Homo sapiens: one gene and its partners. The protein of the gene in region 2 interacts with the protein of the main gene of each other region in a pairwise test. Each region holds a gene or a part of one and is shown on either strand. Other genes may lie near its edges. The genes, in order: MORN4, ZNF131 and PIP4K2B.

Region 1 (7,109 bases), on a different chromosome or scaffold from region 2:
TTTGCTGAAGGGAATTTGCTATATGTGCCTAAGTCAAAATGGAATGGAAGTTTGTAGTATGTACTGTTGAAAACCAATGGGAGAGGATGGTGGGAGGGTTAGGTTGAAACATGGTATTCCAGTTATTATTGCTGTATAACAAAGTACCCCAGAATTTAGCAGCTTAAAACACCCATACTGTGGCCAGGCGCGGTGGCTCATGCCTGTAATCCCAGCACTTTGGGAGGTTGAGGAGGGCGGATCATGAGATCAGGAGATCAAGACCATCCTGGCTAACACAGTGAAACCTCATCTCTACTAAAAATACAAAAAATTAGCCGGGGCCGGGCACAGTGGCTCATGCCTGTAATCCCAGCACTTCGGGAGGCTGAGGCAGGCGGATCACAAGGTCAGGAGATCGAGACCATCCTGGCTAACATGGTGAAACCCCGTCTCCACTAAAAATACAAAAAAAAATTAGCTGGGCATGGTGGCGGGCGCCTGTAGTCCCAGCTACTGGGGAGGCTGAGGCAGGAGAATGGCGAGAACCTGGGAGGCAGAGCTTGCAGTAAGCTGAGATCGTGCCACTGAACTCCAGCCTGGGAGACAGCAAGACTCCGTCTCAAAAAAAAAAAAAAAAAAATTAGCTGGGCGTGGTGGCGAGCACCTGTAGTCCCAGCTACTCAGGAAGCTAAGGCAGGAGAATTGCTTGAACCCGGGAGGCGGAGCTTGCAGTGAGCCGAGATCACACCACTGTACTCCACCCAGCGTGACAAAGCGAGACTCTGTCTCAAAAAACAAAACAAACAAACAAAAAAAAAACACCCATATGATGCTCATGGATTCTGTGGGTGAGGGAATTTGGACCTGGCACCATGGGGAGGCCTCTCTCTGCTCCCTGATATGGGATGGAATGCAGGCTCAATGGCTGAGGGCTGGAATCATCTGAAGGCTCCTTCACTGATGCCTGGTACGTGGGATAGGATGATTCAAAGGTAAGGGCAGCCAACTGGAACACCAATATATGGCTTTTCTGTGTGGCTTGGCTTTCAGTGTTAGCCTCTGTGTAGTCAGGCTTTTTATGTGGTGGCTCGGGTCTCCAAGTGTGAGTGTATCAGTGACAAGATGGAAGTTGCATCACCTTTTATGATCTAACCTCAGAACACACCACCATTTTCTTTTGAGACAGAGTTTCACTCTTGTTGCCCAGGCTGGAGTGCAATGGCGCGATCTTGGCTCACTTCAACCTCCGCCTCCTGGGTTAAGCAATTCTCCTGCCTCAGCCTCCCAAGTAGCTGGGATTACAGGCATGGGCCACCACACCCAGCTAATTTTGTATTTTTAGTAGAGATGGGGTTTCTCCATGTTGGTCAGGCTGGTCTTGAACTTCCGACCTCAGGTGATCCGTCCGCCTCGGCCTCCCAAAATGCTAGGATTACAGGCATGAGCCACCACGCCCGGCCCACACCATCATTTTCATTGTGTTCTTTTGGTCCAAGCAGTCACAAGCCTACTCAGATTCAAGGGAGGGGAGGTAGATTTCACCTTTTAATGGATCAATGGCCAGATCAAATTGTAGACAAACATGTAAGACAGAAGATACTGTTGCAAACATCTTGGAAATACAGTCCGCCACATTTGGTAATAAGAAGGTAACCTTTTCAGTTTCATTGGCTTCCTTAAAATATTTAGGGTATAATCCCCAAGAGCTAACAGCATACTAAAAAAGTGGTTAGGGGCTGGGCGTGGTGGCTCATGCCTATAATCCCAGCACTTTGGGAGTCCAAGGCAGGCAGATCACATGAGGCCAGAAGTTTGAGACCAGCCTGGCCAACATAGTGAAACCCCATCTCTACTAAAAATATGAAAATTAGCTGGCCGTGCTGGCACGCCTGTAATCCCAGCTACTCAGGAGGCTGAGGCACGAGAATCTCTTGAGCCTGGGAGGCGGAGGTTGCAGTGAGCCAAGATCATGCCATTAGACTTCAGCCTGTGTGACACAGTGAGACTGTGTCTCAAAAAAAAAAAAAGAAAGAAAAAAAGTGGTTAGGTGTACCACTTGAAAACTAGTACTTTGTCCGTAAATAACCCTCAAACTGGAGAAATGTTCCCTTCTTTCAGCAATCTTATACTGTTCCTTCTGGAACAAGGTAGAATGCCACTCTTTGGAAGTTTCACGTAGCCTTGAGAAAAAGTAAATAAATACAAGGCAGTACTTTCCCTGAGTCCCTGTGTAGTCAATATGACTCCTCAAATCCCACTGCAATAACTCCTTCCAAATTTTGAGTGAAAACAAGTTGGTTAACTGCTGCCAGACATCTAAAGGAAATGCTCTTATAATCTTTTTGTATAAATAGTGATTTTGTGTTTAGGTTTTGGAATGGTTGTTTAATTATAAGATTTAGTGGAAGATACAGCCCTTCAGATTCTAACTGATGTGTTTTGAAGGAATGAAACTTCAACCATAAGCTGACTTTTAGTGCTGTAACTTAGTTCTGGGAAGAGCTGAGGATTGCCTGATCAAAATGCCCGTCTGTACTGGAAAGCGTTTTCTTCTGCTATTCTGATGGAAAACTACTTCTCATGCTCTCATTAATGTTATATTTGCAATGGAGTCATGTTGGCCTCTACCCCAGCACACTCTGATGCTGGGCTGGTGATAAGAGGCTTGTGAGCCTGAAATTGGATGCTGACCTTGTGGGACATTGATAGGACAGAGATGACATGGCAAGTACCAGCATCACGTCTCAGAAAATAGCTCCCAGAGGTTTGGAGGGAGTTTACTACAAGAAGATAATGGTCCTTGCCTCGGATATCTTCTGTGTGAGAGATACTGGAAATGGAATGCTTGACTGATAACTGAAGAAGGGAGAAAGTCCTATGGGAGTGGCCCCCAAATATCTCTAGAAGAGTCTCCACAAGGTTGCCCTTCATTTAGGCGAGAAATGAATCTTTTCTCTTATTTGGGTGAGAGCACAGGGATTCTTATAACTCGTCTGTCCTCATGGCTGGGACAGAGCCAGGGCGTAGAAGATGTCATTGAACCCTGCTCTGGTCAGGCCTAGCTGTTTTCACATTAGACCATTTCTGGGCTTTTGGTGTCTGTATCAAAAATCATTATGTTCTGGCTGGGCGCGGTAGCTCACGCCTGTAATCTAGCACTTTGGGAGGCCGAGGTGGGCAGATCACATGAGGCCAGGAGTTCAAGACCAGCCTGGCCAACATGGTGAAACCCTGTCTCTGCTAAAAATACAAAAAGTAGCTAGGCGTGGTGGCACACACCTGTAATGCCAGCTACTCAGGAGGCTGAAGCACGAGAATTGCTTGAACCCAGGAGACGAAGGTTGCAGTGAGCTGAGATCGAGCCACTGCACTTCCACCTGGGTGACAGAGTGAGAGTGTCTCAAAAAACAAAAAACAAAAAAAAAAAGGTGTTCAGGTCCCTCTGCTGAAGCTACTCAGCAAAGTCACCAGCACCAGTCTCCATTAAACAAACAAACAAACAAAAATCAGGCCGGGCACAGTGACTCATGCCTGTAATCCCAGCACTTTGGGAGGCCAAGGCGGGAGGATCACCTGAGGTCAGGAGTTCAAGACCAGCCTGGCCAACATGGTAAAACCCTGTCTCTACTGAAAATACAAAATTAGCTGGGCGTGGTGGCAGGGGCCTGTAATCCCAGCTACTTGGGAGGCTGGGGCAAGAGAATCGCTTGAACCTGGGAGGCAGAGGTTACAGTGAGCTGAGACTGCACCATTGCACTCCAGCCTGGGCCACAGGAATGAAACTCTGTCTAAAAAAAAAAAAAAAAAAAAATCTGGGCACAGTGGCTCATGCCTGTAATCCCAGCACTTTGGAAGGCTGAGATGGGTGGCTCACCTGAGGTCAGGAGTTCGAGACCAGCCTGACCAACATGGTGAAGCCCTGTCTCTACTAAAAATACAAAAATTAGCCAGCCATGGTGACGGTCACCTGAAATCCCAGCTATTCGAGAGGCTGAGGCAGGAGAATTACTTGAACTCGGGAGGTGGAGGTTGCAGTGAGCCGACATTGCACCACTGCACTCCAGTCTGGGCCACAGAGCAAGACTCCGTTTCAAGAAAAAAAAAAAAAGAGAGAGAACAAGCATCAGAACATATTATGATTATGATTATGATTATGATTATGATTATGATTATTATTATTATTATTTTTGAGTCAGAGTCTCGCTCTGTCACCCAGGCTGGAGACCAGTGGCATGATCTTGGCTCACTGCAACCTCCACCTCCCAGATTCAAGTGATTCTCCTGTCTCAGCCTCTCAAGTAGCTGGGACTACAGGCATGTGCCACCACGCCTGGCTAATTTTTGTGTTTTTAGTAAAGACAGGGCTTCACCATGTTGGCCAGGCTGGTCTCGAACTCCTGACCTCAGGTGATCCATCTTAGCCTCCCAAAGTGCTGGGATTACAGGCGTGAGCCACTGTGCCCAGCCCGCTTGTTCTCTTTAAAAAAAAAAAAAAAAAAGGCATGAGGCTGGGTGTGGTGGCTCATGCTTATAATCCTAGCACTTTCGGAGGCCAAGGCCAGAGATTGCTTGAGGCTAGGAGTTTGAGATTAGCCTGGGCAACATAGTGGGACACGGTCTCTACAAAAAAGTTAGTTGGGCATGGTGGTGTGTGCCTATAGTCCTAGCTACTTGGGAGGCTGGGGCAGAAGGGTTGCTTGAGCCCACAAGTTCAGGGTTGCAGTGAGTTATGATCAAGCGATTGCACACCAGCATGGGCAACAGAGCGACACACTGTCTCCTTAAAAAACAAAAAATCGTTATGACATGAGGCCAAAATAAAAATATCCTGTAGGATGTTGATAAAGAGTGGATGGGTGGCAACTATAGTTTGTTTTTCCTCTACTTAGTATTCAGCTCTTTAGTCAAAATTGCTGAGATTTTCTTTTTCAAAGTGTTGTTTGAATTACATTGGTAGCAGTTTTTACTGAGGAAAGACCTAGAGAAGTTTTCATTACAGTAAGTATATGTGTGAGTTTAAGTGTAAAACTTTGAAAGAGGAAAGAAACTAACATTTAGTGGACAGGCCCTAGCAGTGTTCTAGGTACTTACGTGTGTGTCATTTTCTTTCTTTTATTTTTCTTTTCTGTCACCCACTGACTCTCAGATATTTAATTTAATCCACCTGCCAACTATGTGAAATACATATCTTATCTCCACTTTACAGATGAGGAGACTGAGATTTAGAGATACTTAAATACCTTGCCCATAATTATACAGTGAACTCATATTTGAACTCAAGTCCTCCTGTGCTCAGAGTCTACAACACCACCATATTATCCTGGGAGGCCAGATAGGATAGTATGGTATAAGTTAGCAAGTTACTGTAAGAACTTGTGCCAGCAAGGCCAGCTGTCAGAGCTCTGATTCTAACTTTCACGTGTTAGTTTCCACATGTATGACCTTAGTTAATTTACTTATCCTCTCTGCACCTTAGTTTCCTCATCCCTAAAGTGGAAATAATAATAATACCCACCCCAAAAAGTTGTTGTGAGATGAAATTAGATAATATATTTTAAAAACACTGATGCTCATGCCGTGTGCGGTGACTCACGCCTGTATTCTTAGCACTTTGGGAGGCCGCGGCAGGTGGATCACCTGAGGTCAGGATCACCTGAGGTCACCTGACCAACATGGTGAAACCCCATCTCTACTGAAAATACAAAATTAGCCAGGCGTGGTGGCGCATGCCTGTAATCCCAGCTACTTGGGAGGCTGAGGCGGAGGTTGGAGTGAGCAAAGATCGCGCCATTGCACTCCAGCCTGGGGAAGAATAACAGTGAAACTCCGTCTCAAAAACAAAACAAAACAAAAAACACTGATGCTCACACCAGTAATCCCAGCTACTTGGGAAGCTGATGAGGAAGAATCACTTGAGGCCAGGAGTTCGGGACCAGTCTAGGCACCATAGCGATACCCATCTCAACAAAAAATTTGAAAAGTAGCTGGGTGTGTTGGCACACACCTCTAGTCCCAGCTACTGGAGAGGATGAAGCGGGAGGATCACTTTAGCCCAGAAGTTTGAGACTGCAGTGAGCTCTAATCACAATCACACTACTGCATTCCAGGCTGGGTAACTGAGTGAGACCCCATCTCTTAAAACAAAACAAATAAACAACACTGATGGAACACAGTAAGAGGTCAGTAAATGTTAGCTTCTGTTATAAAGGTATTTCAGACAGCTTCTCTGGGGTTAGTGCAATTGATTATTAGAGAGGGTTGTGCCACCTGAATTGAAATATAAATAATCTAGCACTGTCCACCATGACAATGTGGAGAAAGCAAATTTAACATATGGGTTGTTTTAGTTGAACATTTAAAGCATCACTTTTGCATAAAATATACCAGACCCCTTTTGTGCTATGAAACTATGGAACCCACTCTTTGGAACTCCATCTTGACTGGATGAGGTTTTGGCTTCCCTGGGACTTGAAGGAAAAGGAAGCTAGCTGTTGGCGCCAGGCCCCCGAGATTTAAGAATCCCATCTTGCGGCCAGGCACGGTGGCTCATGCCTGTAATCCCAGCACTTTGGGAGGCCAAGGCGGGCGGATCACGAGGTCAGGAGATTGAGACCATCCTGGCTAACACGGTGAAACTCCATCTCTACTAAAAAATACAAAAAGTTAGTGGGGCGTCGTGGTGGGCACCTGTAGTCCCAGCTACTCGGGAGGCTGAGGCAGGAGAATGGCATGAACCCGGGAGGCAGAGCTTGCAGTCAGCCGAGATCATGCCACTGCACTCCAGCCTGGGCAACAGAGTGAGACTCTGTCTCAAAAAAAGAAAAAAAAAAAAAAAGAATCCCGTCTTGTTTTGAGCTGGGAGCAGTGGCATGCACCTGTAGTTCCAGCTACTCAGAAGTCTAAGAGGGGATTGGAGGATCTCTTGAACCTAGGAGTTCAAGTCCAGCCTGGGTAACATAATGAGACCCTGTCTCTAAAAGAAAAAAGAATTCTTTCCTGTTTCTCCACCAGGTCTGGCCCCAGTACTCTGAGGAGAATGTGTCCTTGTCCTGTTGGAACTCAGTCAGATGCCTGAGGGTCAGACTCTAGGTTACTTATTAATCAGAGGGGACTTTTTTTTTGGAGGG
Region 2 (7,109 bases):
ACTCAGGAGGCTGAGGCAGGAGAATCACCTGAACCCGGGAGATGGAGGTTGCAGTGAGCTGAGATCATGCCACTGCACTCCAGCCTGGGTGGCAGAGTGAGACTCCATCTCAAAAAACAAACAAAAGAGCCGGGCGTGGTGGCTCATGCCTGTAATCCCAGCACTCTGGGAGGCCGAGGCAGGTGGATCATCTGAGATCGGGAGTTCGAGATCAGCCTGACCAACATGGAGAAACCCCATCTCTACTAAAAATACAAAAAATGAGTTGGGCATGGTGGTGCATGCCTGTAATCCCAGCTACTCGAGAGGCTGAGGCAAGAGAATCGCTTGAACCCGGGAGGCGGAGGTTGCGGTGAGCCGAGATCACACCATTGCACTCCAGCCTGGGCAACAAGAGCAAAACGCTGTCTCAAAAAAAAATTAAAATTAAAATTAAAAAATGTGGTAAAAGAATCGAAACATCAACCACTTCAAAACTTTTCTCATTTAACAACCAGCACTATTAACACTCAGGAAAATTAATTTTGAAGTTAGGAGAAGAAAGTTATCAAAGAAAAAATATCATTTTGAATCTGCTCTTACTTTTATATTACTCATTTCACAAAATGTATACATTATTTCTTTCTCTCCCTCACCACCATACTGAATCAATGCCAGAACTTTTTGATTCTGTCTTATTATCTCTCAGCTACATTGCCTCTACTTTCCTCTTTTTTTTTTTTTTTTTTGGAGACAGAGTCTTACTCTATCGCTCAGGCTGGAGTGCAGTGGCCTGATCTCAGCTCACTGCAATCTCCACCTCTCAGGTTCAAGCAATCCTCCTGCCTCAGCCTCCCCAGTAGCTGGGACTACAGGCACGCGCTGCCATGTCCGGCTAATTTTTGTATTTTCAGTAGAGACGGTTTCACCGTGTTGCCCAGGCTGGTCTCGAACTCCTGAGCTCAGGCAATCTGCCCACCTCGGCCTCCCAAAGTGCTGGGATTACAGGCATGAGCCACCGCGCCTGGCCTCCCATTTCTCTTAAAACCAGAAGTTTCGGCTGGGTGTGGTGGCTCATGCCTCTAATCCCAGCACTTTGGGAGGCCGAGGCAGGCAGATCACGAGGTCAGGAGTTTGAGGCCAGCTTGACCAACATGGTGAAACCCCGCCGTCTCTACTAAAAATACAAAAAGTAGCCGGGCGTGGTGGCACGCACCTGTAATCCCAGCCACTGGGGAGGCTGAGGCAGGAGAACTGCTTGAACCCAGGAGGCAGAGGCTGTAGTGAGCCGAGATTGTGCCACTGCATTCCAGCCTGGGTGACAGAGCAAGACTCCATCTCAAACAAACAAACAAAAAACACAGAAGTTTCTCCATAAATCTGGCAGCAAAATTTGATCTCAGCTAACATGGGGCTATGTCATCTTTATCCCACTTAAGAGTGAATACTAACATGCTATGCTGCTAAACTATTAGTATTTGTGAGTATTATGTTTTTCATTACCCTTAGAAAAATTCTAAAATCTGGAATGTTGAGAAGTATGTCTGGCCTCCGAGAAGATTTGAATAAGGAATTGTGGACCTAGCTCCCTGTCCTGACTGATGAGAATCACCTATAGACTAAATAAAGTACTGGTACCAAGGGCTGGGTGTGGTGGCTCATGCCTGTAATCCTAGCACTATGGGAGGCCAAGGCAGGAGCATTGCTTAAGGCTGGTAGTTCAAGACCAGCATGGGCAAAGTAGTGAGATCTCTTCTCTACAAAAAATACAAAAACTAGGCTGGGCATGGTGGCTCATGCCTGCAATACCAGCACTTTGGGAGGCTGAAGCACGCAGATCACTTTAGGTCAGGAGTTTGAGACCAGCCTGGCCAACATGGTGAAACCCTATCTCTACTAAAAATACAAAAAATATTAGCTGGGCATGGTGGTGGGAGCCTTAATTCCAGCTACTTGTGAGGCTGAGGCATGAAAATTGCTTGAACCCGGGAGGCGGAGACTGCAGTAAGCCAAGATCACACCACACTGCACCCCAACCTGGGCAACAGAGTGAGACTCCGTCTCAAAAATAGTAATAATAATAAATAATAAATAAAAATACAAAGACTAGCTGGCCTTGGTGGTATGTGCTTGTAGTTAGAAGGCTGAGGTGAGAGGACTGCTTGAACTCAGGAGGTCAAGGTTGCAATGAGCCATGATGGTACACTGCACTCCAGCCTGGGTGACAGAGCAAGACCCTGTCTCCAAAAAGAAAGTACTGGTACCTGATCTTTGGAATCAAAACTGGGATAAATATCTGGGTTTTTGTTTTTTTTATTATGAGCACCCCAGGTGTGTTTTTTTTTTTTTTTTTTTTTGAGATGGAGTCTCGCTCTGTCGCCCAGGCTGGAGTGCAGTGGCGCCATCTCAGCTCACTGCAAGCTCCGCCTCCCAGGTTCACACCATTCTCCTGCCTCAGCCTCCCAAGTAGCTGGGACTACAGGTGCCCACCACCATGCCCAGCTAATTTTTTTTGTATTTTTAGTAGAGACGGGGTTTCACTCTGTCAGCCAGGATGATCTCGATCTCCTGACCTCATGATCCGCCCGCTCGGCCTCCCAAAGTGCTGGGATTACAGGCGTGAGCCACCATGCCCAGCTCCCAGGTGCTTCTAACTTATATGACCAGCCCAACACTGTCCTAGGAACAAACCAGTGACCTAATTAGCTAACATGAACCAAACTGATAATACTTGCCCAGCTAAATGAAGTGATGGTGGATATGTAATAATTATACATCTATCAAGACTAGTTTGGTAACTTAACAAATCTCAGCAATCCCTTACTCCCTTCATAACAGAAGTGCGCAGAATACAACTTTTCTAAGAGAGTATCTAAGGAAAATGTTAAAGTGAACAACTGAATCTAAGTCTTCTCCCTGACAGAAATGCTTAGAAAGGAGTAAAAGGGAGCAGCATTGTGGCATTACTCTAGACTCAGGGAATCCCTGCAACTGGTGGAAAACTCCTACTCAAAAAGATGTATAAACATGTACAAGGATGTTTTGTTCTTGATAGTAGGGGCTAAAATTTCTGGACACCATGGTAGAGCTGCTGTTACAGAGAAACTAAGTGCCATGGATCTGTGGTTTCAGGTGAAGTAGAAAAAGAATGAATTTAGAAAATTGGAGGTTCACGTTAGAAGGTTGTGTGTTCTGAACAAAGGAATGAATGTCTGTTGAAGATTTTATATGGTGTGAATCCAAGCCACAAAGCTGAGCTGGGATCCAATTAGCTTCAATAGCAACAAATCTGATTTGAAGTCAAAGATGAACCTGTGGTTTTCATCAAAGGTAACTTACTTTAACCAGGAACACAGAAAACATGGAGGGTGAGCTCAGCTTGCACCTAATGAGTTTATACTCAGAGAATATTACAATCTAAATTTATATACACGTCATTTGCTTTTACGCAATCCTCTAAGACAGTGGTCCTCAACATTGACTGCACACTAGAATCATGCTAGGGCAGTGCTGCTCAAATTTTACTGTGCGTAGGCACCATCTGGGGATCTTGTTCCAATTCAGCAGGTCTGGAATGGAACCTGAGTCTACATTTCTAACAAGTTTCCAAATGATCCCCATGTAGTGGTCCTCAGACCACAACCTACATAGTATATCAAGAACCTAGAGAACTTTTAAATATAGTTTTCTGGATCCTACTCCTGAAAGATTTTTAATTATCTGGAGATACAACCTGGGCATTTATATTTGTAATCGCTTCCCTGGTGTCTCTAATGCCCACCTAATGTGCCATGCTAAGTCATTATTTATATTTTACGAGTGGGGGACGGGGTCCCAGTTCTAGCTAAGATGGAGAAAGCACACTCCACCCTATCTTGTCCATTGATTATTACTAAAAATCCTGGAAAGAATACATAAAGCAAATATACAAGGACTCTGAAAAGTAATTTGAAGCAAGCAGACTGGCGAGAGAAATCAAAACTCAAAACAGTAGTGAGTTTCCTGGTTTTTTTCTCCCACATATGTCAGCTTAGACTTGAGGACAGCCCAAATCTCATTAACTGTGCAGTGAGTGAAGACAGAGAAAAGTTCCAAGAGAAACTCCTTCTGGCTAGAGAACTAGAAAAGATGATGAATGGGAGAGGGACAATGGGGAGGGGTGGATATCTGGTAATTTTTCTTCTCTCTCAGCTCTGCCTCAAAGCAAGCCCCAATCCTGAGTCTGCACACCTGTGGCTGGTAGCTGTCTCCTAAACTCTAAAAGAGAGTTCTTCTGACAAAAGAACTAGGAAAAAGACGATGATCGGAAGAGTATGGAAGAGGGAATTCATTTTATTTTTTTCTCTAACTTTTCTCTCTCTCCATTTTGTTCAGGAAATGAGCCCCTCTACAGAAAACGTATGAAAAGCACAAAGAAGCTAAAATTCCAGTTTTCTCACCAAAGAACCACGAAAAGAAACTCTTGGGAGCTTGTGTACAAGGGAAGTCACGGAGAGAAGAAACGTCCTCTAAATTTGTGTATACAATCTCAAGTTTACCACCAACATGCCCATGTGTGAACTGACCCAAGGCGGCAGAGGAAAGGCGCTGAGAACTGCACAATGGCATGGATGGCACACCTGGGACCTGAACAGCAATACGAAGGTTTTGAAAAGTAAGTTCAAACTGGATCCACAGCCCACAGAGGCAGTCTGAACCTAACCAGGTTAACTGCCCGCTAAAGTGAAACCAAAAAACCAAAAATATTTTCCAGAGGATTTTAACAGCATCCAGTTTTGTAACAAAATATTCAAATGTCCATGACATACTCCAAAATTATGTGACATGAAAAATAAGGAAGCCAAGATATCTAAGGTCACACAGCACACAAACAGTTAAAGCCAGGGCTAAAACTCAAGTTTTCTAACTAACTATATGCCCAGGGCTTTCTCCACAGCCAGGTGACCTTGCTAGACAGTACTGTAACCCCAAAGTTAAGGGCTTAAGATACTGAACCAAATTAATTATTTAAACCTGAATCTGACCAAATGACAGAAATAAAGTGTGTGTCTATTTTGCTTTCTTATCTATCTAGAATTCAAATACTGAAGACTTGTGTGTGCCACAGACCTAAATCTCAAGGTGACTAGTCTTCAGAAGACCAGGCTCTACTTCTACTTCTCCAGGTAATGTGTGCTCATTCTACCAGCAACAAATATTCCAGCTTGGGCCACTTTTCCTTTTTTTTTTCTTTGAGACGGAGTTTCACTCTTGTTGCCCAGGCTGGAGTGCAATGGCGTGACTCAGCTCGCTACAACCTCCGCCTCCCGGGTTCAAGCGATTCTCCTGCCTCGGCCTTCCTGAGTAGCTGGGATTACAGGTGCCCACCACCACGCCCGGCTAATTTTATATTTTTAGTAGAGACAGGGTTTCACCATGTTGGTCAGGCTGGTCTCGACCTCTCGACCTCAGGTGATCTGCCTGCCTCGGCCTCCCAAAGTGCTGGGATTACAGGCGTGAGCCACCGCATCCGGCCAGGCCACTTATTTTTTAAGACTTAAAAATTCTGCTCAGACTTGGCCAGTCGTGGTCTCACGCCTGTAATCCCAGCACTTTGGGAGGAAGAGGCGGGTGGATCACCTGAGGTGGGGAATTCGAGACCAGCCTGATCACGCCATTGCACTCCAGCCTGGGTAACAAGAGCTAAAATCTATCTCCAAAAAAAAGAAAAAAAAAATTCTGCTCAGACTCAAAACTCCTCTTTGAAATCTTTCCTAAGGAAGACCAAACCACTCATTCTCCCTCTTCAGTGATACCATTTCACAGTAATAGTCTTTGTAATACTTTTTGCACTCCTTTATTTGCCTGTTGCTCACCTGTTATGAAATTTTCCGACTTCTTTAAGGGACATCTTATTCATTAATTCTTCATCTCCTGGGTCTAACATAGTACATGATATATTATAGATATTCAATATGATAAACTGACTTTTTTTTTTTTTTTTTGAGACAGGGCCTTGCTCTGTCGCCCAGGCTACAATGCAGTGGCAAAATCATGGCTCACTGCAGCTTTGACCTCCTGGGCCCCAGCAATCCTCCCGCCTCAGCCTCCTGAATAGCTGGGACCACAGGCATGTGCCATCAGACTCAGCTAATAATTTTTTAAATTTTTTGTAGAGAAGAGGTCTCCCTAATGTTTCTTAGACTGGACCCTGTTTATCAAGCTTTGACAAGGCACCAAATATCATGCCATGCACTCTGCATGTTATCGCAATTAGTCTTTATAATCCTATGAACCCACTTTTCAGATGAGGAGAAAAGTATGCAATTGAGGTAAAGTAACCCGCCTGGGGTCACATATTTAATAAACCTCAGGTGTGAATGAATTCATGGAGGCTTGCTTTGTAGTAGAAACCACTATCATCTGGGCAGTTAGATTCTCACTTTATTAAGTTTTGTGGATTTTCATAATTATGTCTCTGTCCTGATTATAGATATTAAAAGATACTCTAGCTGTAAATATATCAGCTATAATGCTAAACTGGAATATACCAAAATTAAAGAATATTCTTAACTCTTTTTTGTTTTCTTTACTCCCCTAGGCATCAAAGGGAAAAAAGGAGTTTCTAGGCAACCCATTCAGAACAAAGAATACGTACACAATGAAATAGATATAAAACCAAAACCCAAGAACCCTAAAAGAAGCTAAAATTCTGTAATTACGTAGGCAAACATTTATTTCCTGCTGTTTTAGATTTTGATGCTGGTGGTAGGGGAGGAGTTACTGCAGTAGCAGAAGAAAAAGCATGGTAATTAATAGCACAAACTTAATTCCTTGCTAGTTGGACAACCCTGGGCAAGTAACCTTTTAGAGCCTGCTTCCTGAAGTGTAAATTATTACAAATAACACCACTTCCCTTTTTGAAAAGAAAAGAAAAGAAAAGAAAAGACAGGGTCTATGTTGCCCCAGGCTGGCCTCGAACTCCTGGGCTCAAGCAATCCTCCTGCCTCAGCCTCCCGAGTAGCTGGGACTACAAGCACAAGCCATCCTGCCCAACATCAAACGATTGCTGTGAGCCTTAGACAATACACAAAACTACATATCACAACGCCTGGCACTTGGCAGGTTATTATTAGAAAAATGTCTAGAAA
Region 3 (7,109 bases), on a different chromosome or scaffold from region 2:
CCTGGCCAGAATTTCTTTCTTTTTAAAGCTGAATAAGGCTGAGCATGGTGGCTAACACCTGTAATCCCAGCAGCTCAGGAGGCTGAGGCAGAAGGACTGCTTGAGGCCAGAAGTTGGAGACCTGGGCAATTTACTGAGATCCTGTCTCTACAAAAAATTAAAAACTAGCTGGGTGTGGTGACATGTGCCTGTAGTCCTAGCTATTCAGGAGGCTGGGTGGGAGGATCCCTTGTGCCTAGGAGTTCACGGTTGTGGTGAGCTATGATCATGCCACTGTGCATCAGCCTGAACTAGAGGGTAAGACCCCATCTCTTTAAAAAACAAAACAAAAGCTAGGCGCGGTGGCTCACGCTTGTAATCCCAGCACTTTGGGAGGCCAAGGCAGGCGGATCACGAGGTCAGGAGATCGAGACCATCCTGGCTAACACGGTGAAACCCCGTCTCTACTAAAAATGCAAAAACAAAATTAGCCAGGTGTGGTGGTGGGCGCCTGTAGTCCCAGCTACTCGGGAGGCTGAGGCAGGAGAATGGCATGAACCCGGGAGACGGAGCTTGCAGGGAGCCGAGATCGTGCCACTGCACTCCAGCCTGGGCGACAGAACGAGACCTCATCTCAAAAACACACACACACACACACACACAAAAACTGATTAATATTCCATTGTATGGATGTATTACATTTTGTTTATTCATCAGTTAATGGACACTTGTTATATCAGTTGGGGTTCTCCAGAGAAACAAAACCTATAGGATGTTTTGTAAATCTCTTTATACCAAGATATTTATTTTTTATTTTATTTATTTATTTTTTTTGAGACAGAGTCTTGCTCTGTCACCCAGGCTGGAGTACAGTGGCGCGATCTTGGCTCACTGCAAGCTCCGCCTCCCGGGTTCACGCCATTCTCCTGCCTCAGCCTCCCGAGTAGCTGGGACTACAGGCGCCCACCACCATGCCCAGCTAGTTTTTTTTGTATTTTTAGTAGAGATGGGGTTTCACCATGTTAGCCAGGATGGTCTTGATCTCCTGACCTCATGATCTGCCTGCCTCGGCCTCCCAAAGTGCTGGGATTACAGGTGTGAGCCACCACGCCCGGCCCTAAGAGATTTATTTTAAGGAATTGTTTCATGGGATTATGGATACCAACGAGATCTGCAGTCAGCAAGCCGGAGGCCCAGGAGAGCTGGTGGTGTGGTTTTATTCTACAGGCCATCAGGCCACCAGGCAGAAGGAGTTCCCTCTTCCTCACCGGAGGGTCACCCTTTTTCTTCTCTTCAGGCCTTCTGCTGATTGGATGATGCCCATCCACACTGGGGAGGGCCATCTGCTTTACTCAGTCCACCAGTTCAATGCTCATTTCACCCAGAAACCCTCACAGACACACCCAGAATAATGCTTGACCAAGTGTCTGGGCACTCAGGCCCAGTCCAGCTGGCATATACAATTAGCCATCACACTTAGGTTGCTTCCACCTTGTAGCTGTTGGGAATAATGCTACTGTGAACATGGGTGTCATAAACTTCGTTTTGCTAGGAAGCGTTTCCTTAGTCACCCCCAACTATGTTCTTTCCTTATTCTGCCTTTCATCATCTGACATTATTTGTCCTGAGTCTTTGTCCTTCTCCCTTTTCTACCCTCTCCCCCTACTGTGGTTCTGAGAAGAATTTAATGCAGTTTACTCAGTGCATTTGTTTTCAATGCATGTTGCTTTATAAATGTTCTCAGGTGGGTGGAGGGCATGGTGCATGGACCTTCTTTTTCCTGGGACCCTAGCCCCTTCTCCCTGGGCCTTGAGAAGGCTTTGTCTGGAAGTGCTCAGAGTGGCATCCCTCCCTCCCTTCCTCTTCCAAGGAGATCCTGCTGGGCTCCCATCTTTAGGGCTCCTTGTCCTTAGTTGTGTTCTGGGCTCGTGCATAGAGCTGCTCTGCTTCCATGATGATTCTCCTCCTAGTTCTCTGTTAGGACCTAACATGGTGGTCAGTCTAACAGTCTCCTAGTGACCACTGTATGATGGTGACTGCACTCTTGCCTCATTATTAGCTAAACTGGAATGCTAGCTGGCCATTTCCATCCTGTATCATTCCATACTTTGTCTTGAAATCCTAGATAAAAGACTTGAACCACCACCCTGCTCACAGCACCCATTATACAGATGAGAAAACTAAGGCTTGGCAAGGGGAGTCACATGATGCTAGGGGAGGACTTTCCCCCAGCACCACACAGCCTCTTTTGACCTTCAGGGAATGGGTTGAGAATATTGGTTGGTTCTGGCTGCCATTCTTGTATGGTTTTGTGTTCCCTTTTCCTTTTTTTTCTATTTTTACCTGGGCTGAAAAGTCGATGACATAGTTTTTTCAGACTTTGTCTCTGAGGCCAGTTAGAAGTATATTTTACCTTGCAACCCAATGGATACACACAACTGAAACACTGTCTACCCTTATTTTCTGTCATGTATTCTGATATTTTCTATTCTATTTTATTATACAGTAGTCCCCCCTTATCAGCAGGGGACATGTTCCAAGATCCCCAGTGGACGCCTGAAGCCACAGATAGTACTGAACCCTGTATATACTATGCGTGAATTTTTTTTCCTTCTTCACAATTTCACGGATAGAAGATTTGTTCTTACAGGAGATCTTAGCAACCTCAGCATGCAATTTATTTTCTTTGTAAGTCAAGAGCTTTCACCTTTTCACTTAAAGCTGGCCAGGTGCAGTGGCTCACACCTGTAATCCCAGCACTTTTGGGAGGCTGAGGCAGGTGGATCACTTGAGGTCAGGAGCTCGAGACCAGCCTGGCCAACATGATGAAACTGTCTCTACTAAAAATACAAAAATTAGCTGAGTGTGGTGGTGCATGCCTGAAGTCCCAGCTACTTGGGAGGCTGAGACAGGAGAATCACTTGAACCTGGGAGGTGGAGGTTGCAGTGAGCCGAGATTGCACCAGTGCACTCTAGCCTGGTGACAGAGCAAGACTCTGTCTCAAAAAAAGAAAGCACTTTATGGCTTCTCTTTGGCATATCTGAATTGCCAACATCACTACTCTTGCTCTGTGGAGTCATAATGAAGTCAAATATGGGTTACTTGAATACAAGCACTGTGATACAACTATAGTGAACTGATAACCAAGACAGCTACGGACAGCTACTGAAAGACTAATGGGACGTTAGTGCATACAGTGTGGATATACTGCACAAAGGGATAATCTGCATCCTGGGCAGCACTGAATGGGACATAGCAAGATTTTATCATGCTACTCGGAATGGTACACTATTTAAAAACTTATGAATTATTTCTGGAATTTTCCATTTAATATTTTTGGACTGTAGTTGACCACAGGTAACTGAAACCATTGTGGATAAGGGTGGACTACTGCATTTAATTTAAAGAAATCCTAGTTCCAGCCCACTACATTGGGTTTAGGACTCATAATGGGTTGAAATTTTGATCTGAAATATATTGTTGTGTCATATCCATCGCTCCATCCTCTTCCATAGTATATCATTTCATTATTTCTTTCCTCAAACTTGGCCATGGCCTCTTTTTTTAAAACAAGAGACAGGGTCTCACTCTGTTCCCCAGGCTTGAGTGCAATAGTGCCGTCATAGCTTACTGCAGCCTCAAATTCCTGGGCTCACGCGATCCTCCCACTTGAGCCTCCCAAGTAGGTAGGACTACAGGTGTGCACTGCCACGCCCAGCCAATTTTTAAATTTTTTTGTAGAGATGGGGTCTCATCACGTTGCTGAGGCTGGTCTCAAACTCCTGGCCTCAAGTGATCCTCCTTAATTGGCCTCCCAAAGTTCTGGGATTACAGGCATGAGCCACCGTGCCCAGCCACCATGGCCTCTCTTGATCCCAAACCGTCATGGGCTGTTCCCTCTTCCTGCAGTGCTCGTTCTATCTTTAACCTGCAGTACTTGCCTCACTGACTCCTCTTCATCCTTGGCCTCAACTCCTTTCTTCAGGGAGGGTCTTGCTCACCCCTCACTGTAAACTCCCACAGCTCCTTGCTTTTTTTTTTTTTTTTTTTTTTTTTGAGACCATCTCCCTCTGTTACCCAGCTAGAGTGCAGTGGTGTGATCACAGCTCACTGCAGCCTCGACCTCCTGCCTTTCCCCTGCTGAATGACTGTCTTCCCCATTAGAGAGAGCTCGCGAGGGCGGGTGCTCTGATGCCTTACTCTCTGTTGAATTTCAAAACTGTTTGTAGAATTGAGTTGAAAGGAATGCCTTTCCCCCCTTTCTGGATGTCACTGGGATGTCCTGTGTAACCTCTTCTTCCTTCCATCTTTCCATCCTTGCCCTTCCTAGTTCTTGGCACAGCTGAAGATCATGGACTACAGCCTGCTGGTGGGCATCCACGACGTGGACCGGGCAGAGCAGGAGGAGATGGAGGTGGAGGAGCGGGCAGAGGACGAGGAGTGTGAGAATGATGGGGTGGGTGGCAACCTACTCTGCTCCTATGGCACACCTCCGGACAGCCCTGGCAACCTCCTCAGCTTTCCTCGGTTCTTTGGTCCTGGGGAATTCGACCCCTCTGTTGACGTCTATGCCATGAAAAGCCATGAAAGTAAGTCAGAGCCTGCGCCTGCTCTGCACAGCCCTGCCCTCATCCTACCCCCTCAGCTCATTGTTTAGATCCTTCTAGGGGCATCTGGACCTCCACCTCATTCATTGCTGCCTTTGACCTCTTTCTGCCTCCAGATTCCCATCCAGGGTCACCACCTGAACCTGGGGCTCCTCCTCTGCCAGGCTTTCCTATACTTCCCTGCTTGTCCTGGCTGACTGAAGAGTGGTTCTGCTCTGGTTCATGAGATGAACCAAACTTTATTCATACTGTCCTGTCAGCCCCACAGAGTGACTGTGAAGATCCAATAAGATAAGAGCTATGACAGCTGGAAAGGACTCCACTGGTCCTTTTCTCAGCCCCAACATGATAAGGATGGAGCTGAGCCTTGTGTCTGGGGGTTGTAGCAGTGCCCAGCTGCTGTCTGCCCTTCTCCTGCCCCCTCTTCCTTCTTCCCTGCTCTCCTTGTCCCTCCAGGTTCCCCCAAGAAGGAGGTGTATTTCATGGCCATCATTGATATCCTCACGCCATACGATACAAAGAAGAAAGCTGCACATGCTGCCAAAACGGTGAAACACGGGGTGAGTCCTCTCCATCTTCATCCAGGGCCCAGCTGGGTCGGTGCATCTGTGCTTACCCTCAGACCCCAGGGAGGGCAGTCTCAGGCCTCCTGCTCCAAGGAACACACTCCTGTCTCCTTCTTCCCAGGAGAGCAGACTGGAAGAGCAGCCTGCCTGCCTTGCCATGTTCCCTGCCTTCACCCACCTGCTCCCTGCCAGGCTGGGCCCAATTTGTTTATCCCCCAGTTCTCCAGCCCTCGGGGCCAAGCCTGCCAGTGTCTTTCCCCAGGGCCTGCTGGGCCTGTTGTGCATCTTGTTGAAGGGCGAGTAATAGCTTTGTTTCCATGCCCATACTGCTCCCCACAGGCCTGTTTCCCTGTGGGCCTGAAGCCCTGTTCTCCATGTAGTGGCCCCCACAGAGATCCAGAGCCGCGTTGCCACCTCCCCACTGCCTTTCTTCTACTTCGGTGCAGGCCTGGGGTTATAAATCACAGGAGTGGGGCCAGGACAGTTCAGGACTTGTATGCCACTTCCTGAGGTGGTCTGCTCAGTCTTGGTGGGGTTGGGGGTGGTATTCAGCTCTGATACTGAGTAAGAGGCTTCTGAATACCCTGGCTCCCCCCATGTGCAGCCTCCTGATTGGGGCACAGGAACTCAACCTGAATCAGCCTCTTGTGTATTACAGGCAGGGGCCGAGATCTCGACTGTGAACCCTGAGCAGTACTCCAAACGCTTCAACGAGTTTATGTCCAACATCCTGACGTAGTTCTCTTCTACCTTCAGCCAGAGCCAGAGAGCTGGATATGGGGTCGGGGATCGGGAGTTAGGGAGAAGGGTGTATTTGGGCTAGATGGGAGGGTGGGAGCAGAGTCGGGTTTGGGAGGGCTTTAGCAATGAGACTGCAGCCTGTGACACCGAAAGAGACTTTAGCTGAAGAGGAGGGGGATGTGCTGTGTGTGCACCTGCTCACAGGATGTAACCCCACCTTCTGCTTACCCTTGATTTTTTCTCCCCATTTGACACCCAGGTTAAAAAGGGGTTCCCTTTTTGGTACCTTGTAACCTTTTAAGATACCTTGGGGCTAGAGATGACTTCGTGGGTTTATTTGGGTTTTGTTTCTGAAATTTCATTGCTCCAGGTTTGCTATTTATAATCATATTTCATCAGCCTACCCACCCTCCCCATCTTTGCTGAGCTCTCAGTTCCCTTCAATTAAAGAGATACCCGGTAGACCCAGCACAAGGGTCCTTCCAGAACCAAGTGCTATGGATGCCAGATTGGAGAGGTCAGACACCTCGCCCTGCTGCATTTGCTCTTGTCTGGATTAACTTTGTAATTTATGGAGTATTGTGCACAACTTCCTCCACCTTTCCCTTGGATTCAAGTGAAAACTGTTGCATTATTCCTCCATCCTGTCTGGAATACACCAGGTCAACACCAGAGATCTCAGATCAGAATCAGAGATCTCAGAGGGGAATAAGTTCATCCTCATGGGATGGTGAGGGGCAGGAAAGCGGCTGGGCTCTTGGACACCTGGTTCTCAGAGAACCCTGTGATGATCACCCAAGCCCCAGGCTGTCTTAGCCCCTGGAGTTCAGAAGTCCTCTCTGTAAAGCCTGCCTCCCACTAGGTCAAGAGGAACTAGAGTACCTTTGGATTTATCAGGACCCTCATGTTTAAATGGTTATTTCCCTTTGGGAAAACTTCAGAAACTGATGTATCAAATGAGGCCCTGTGCCCTCGATCTATTTCCTTCTTCCTTCTGACCTCCTCCCAGGCACTCTTACTTCTAGCCGAACTCTTAGCTCTGGGCAGATCTCCAAGCGCCTGGAGTGCTTTTTAGCAGAGACACCTCGTTAAGCTCCGGGATGACCTTGTAGGAGATCTGTCTCCCTGTGCCTGGAGAGTTACAGCCAGCAAGGTGCCCCCATCTTAGAGTGTGGTGTCCAAACGTGAGGTGGCTTCCTAGTTACATGAGGATGT

What was found.
Region 1: the proteins of ZNF131 (region 2) and MORN4 interact in binary tests that used the Homo sapiens proteins (3 or more experiments, as listed by UniProt).
Region 3: the proteins of ZNF131 (region 2) and PIP4K2B interact in binary tests that used the Homo sapiens proteins (3 or more experiments, as listed by UniProt).

Annotation. Positions count from the first base shown.
Region 1 is NC_000010.11:97,623,439-97,630,547, reverse strand, and holds part of MORN4 (MORN repeat-containing protein 4), read left to right. Parts: intron 1-7,109. UniProt on the Homo sapiens protein: Plays a role in promoting axonal degeneration following neuronal injury by toxic insult or trauma.
Region 2 is NC_000005.10:43,123,884-43,130,992, reverse strand, and holds part of ZNF131 (zinc finger protein 131), read right to left. Parts: intron 1-7,109. UniProt on the Homo sapiens protein: Plays a role during development and organogenesis as well as in the function of the adult central nervous system. May be involved in transcriptional regulation as a repressor of ESR1/ER-alpha signaling.
Region 3 is NC_000017.11:38,768,474-38,775,582, reverse strand, and holds part of PIP4K2B (phosphatidylinositol 5-phosphate 4-kinase type-2 beta), read left to right. Parts: intron 1-4,310; coding exon 4,311-4,569; intron 4,570-5,043; coding exon 5,044-5,147; intron 5,148-5,811; coding exon 5,812-5,892; 3' UTR 5,893-7,109. UniProt on the Homo sapiens protein: Participates in the biosynthesis of phosphatidylinositol 4,5-bisphosphate. Preferentially utilizes GTP, rather than ATP, for PI(5)P phosphorylation and its activity reflects changes in direct proportion to the physiological GTP concentration.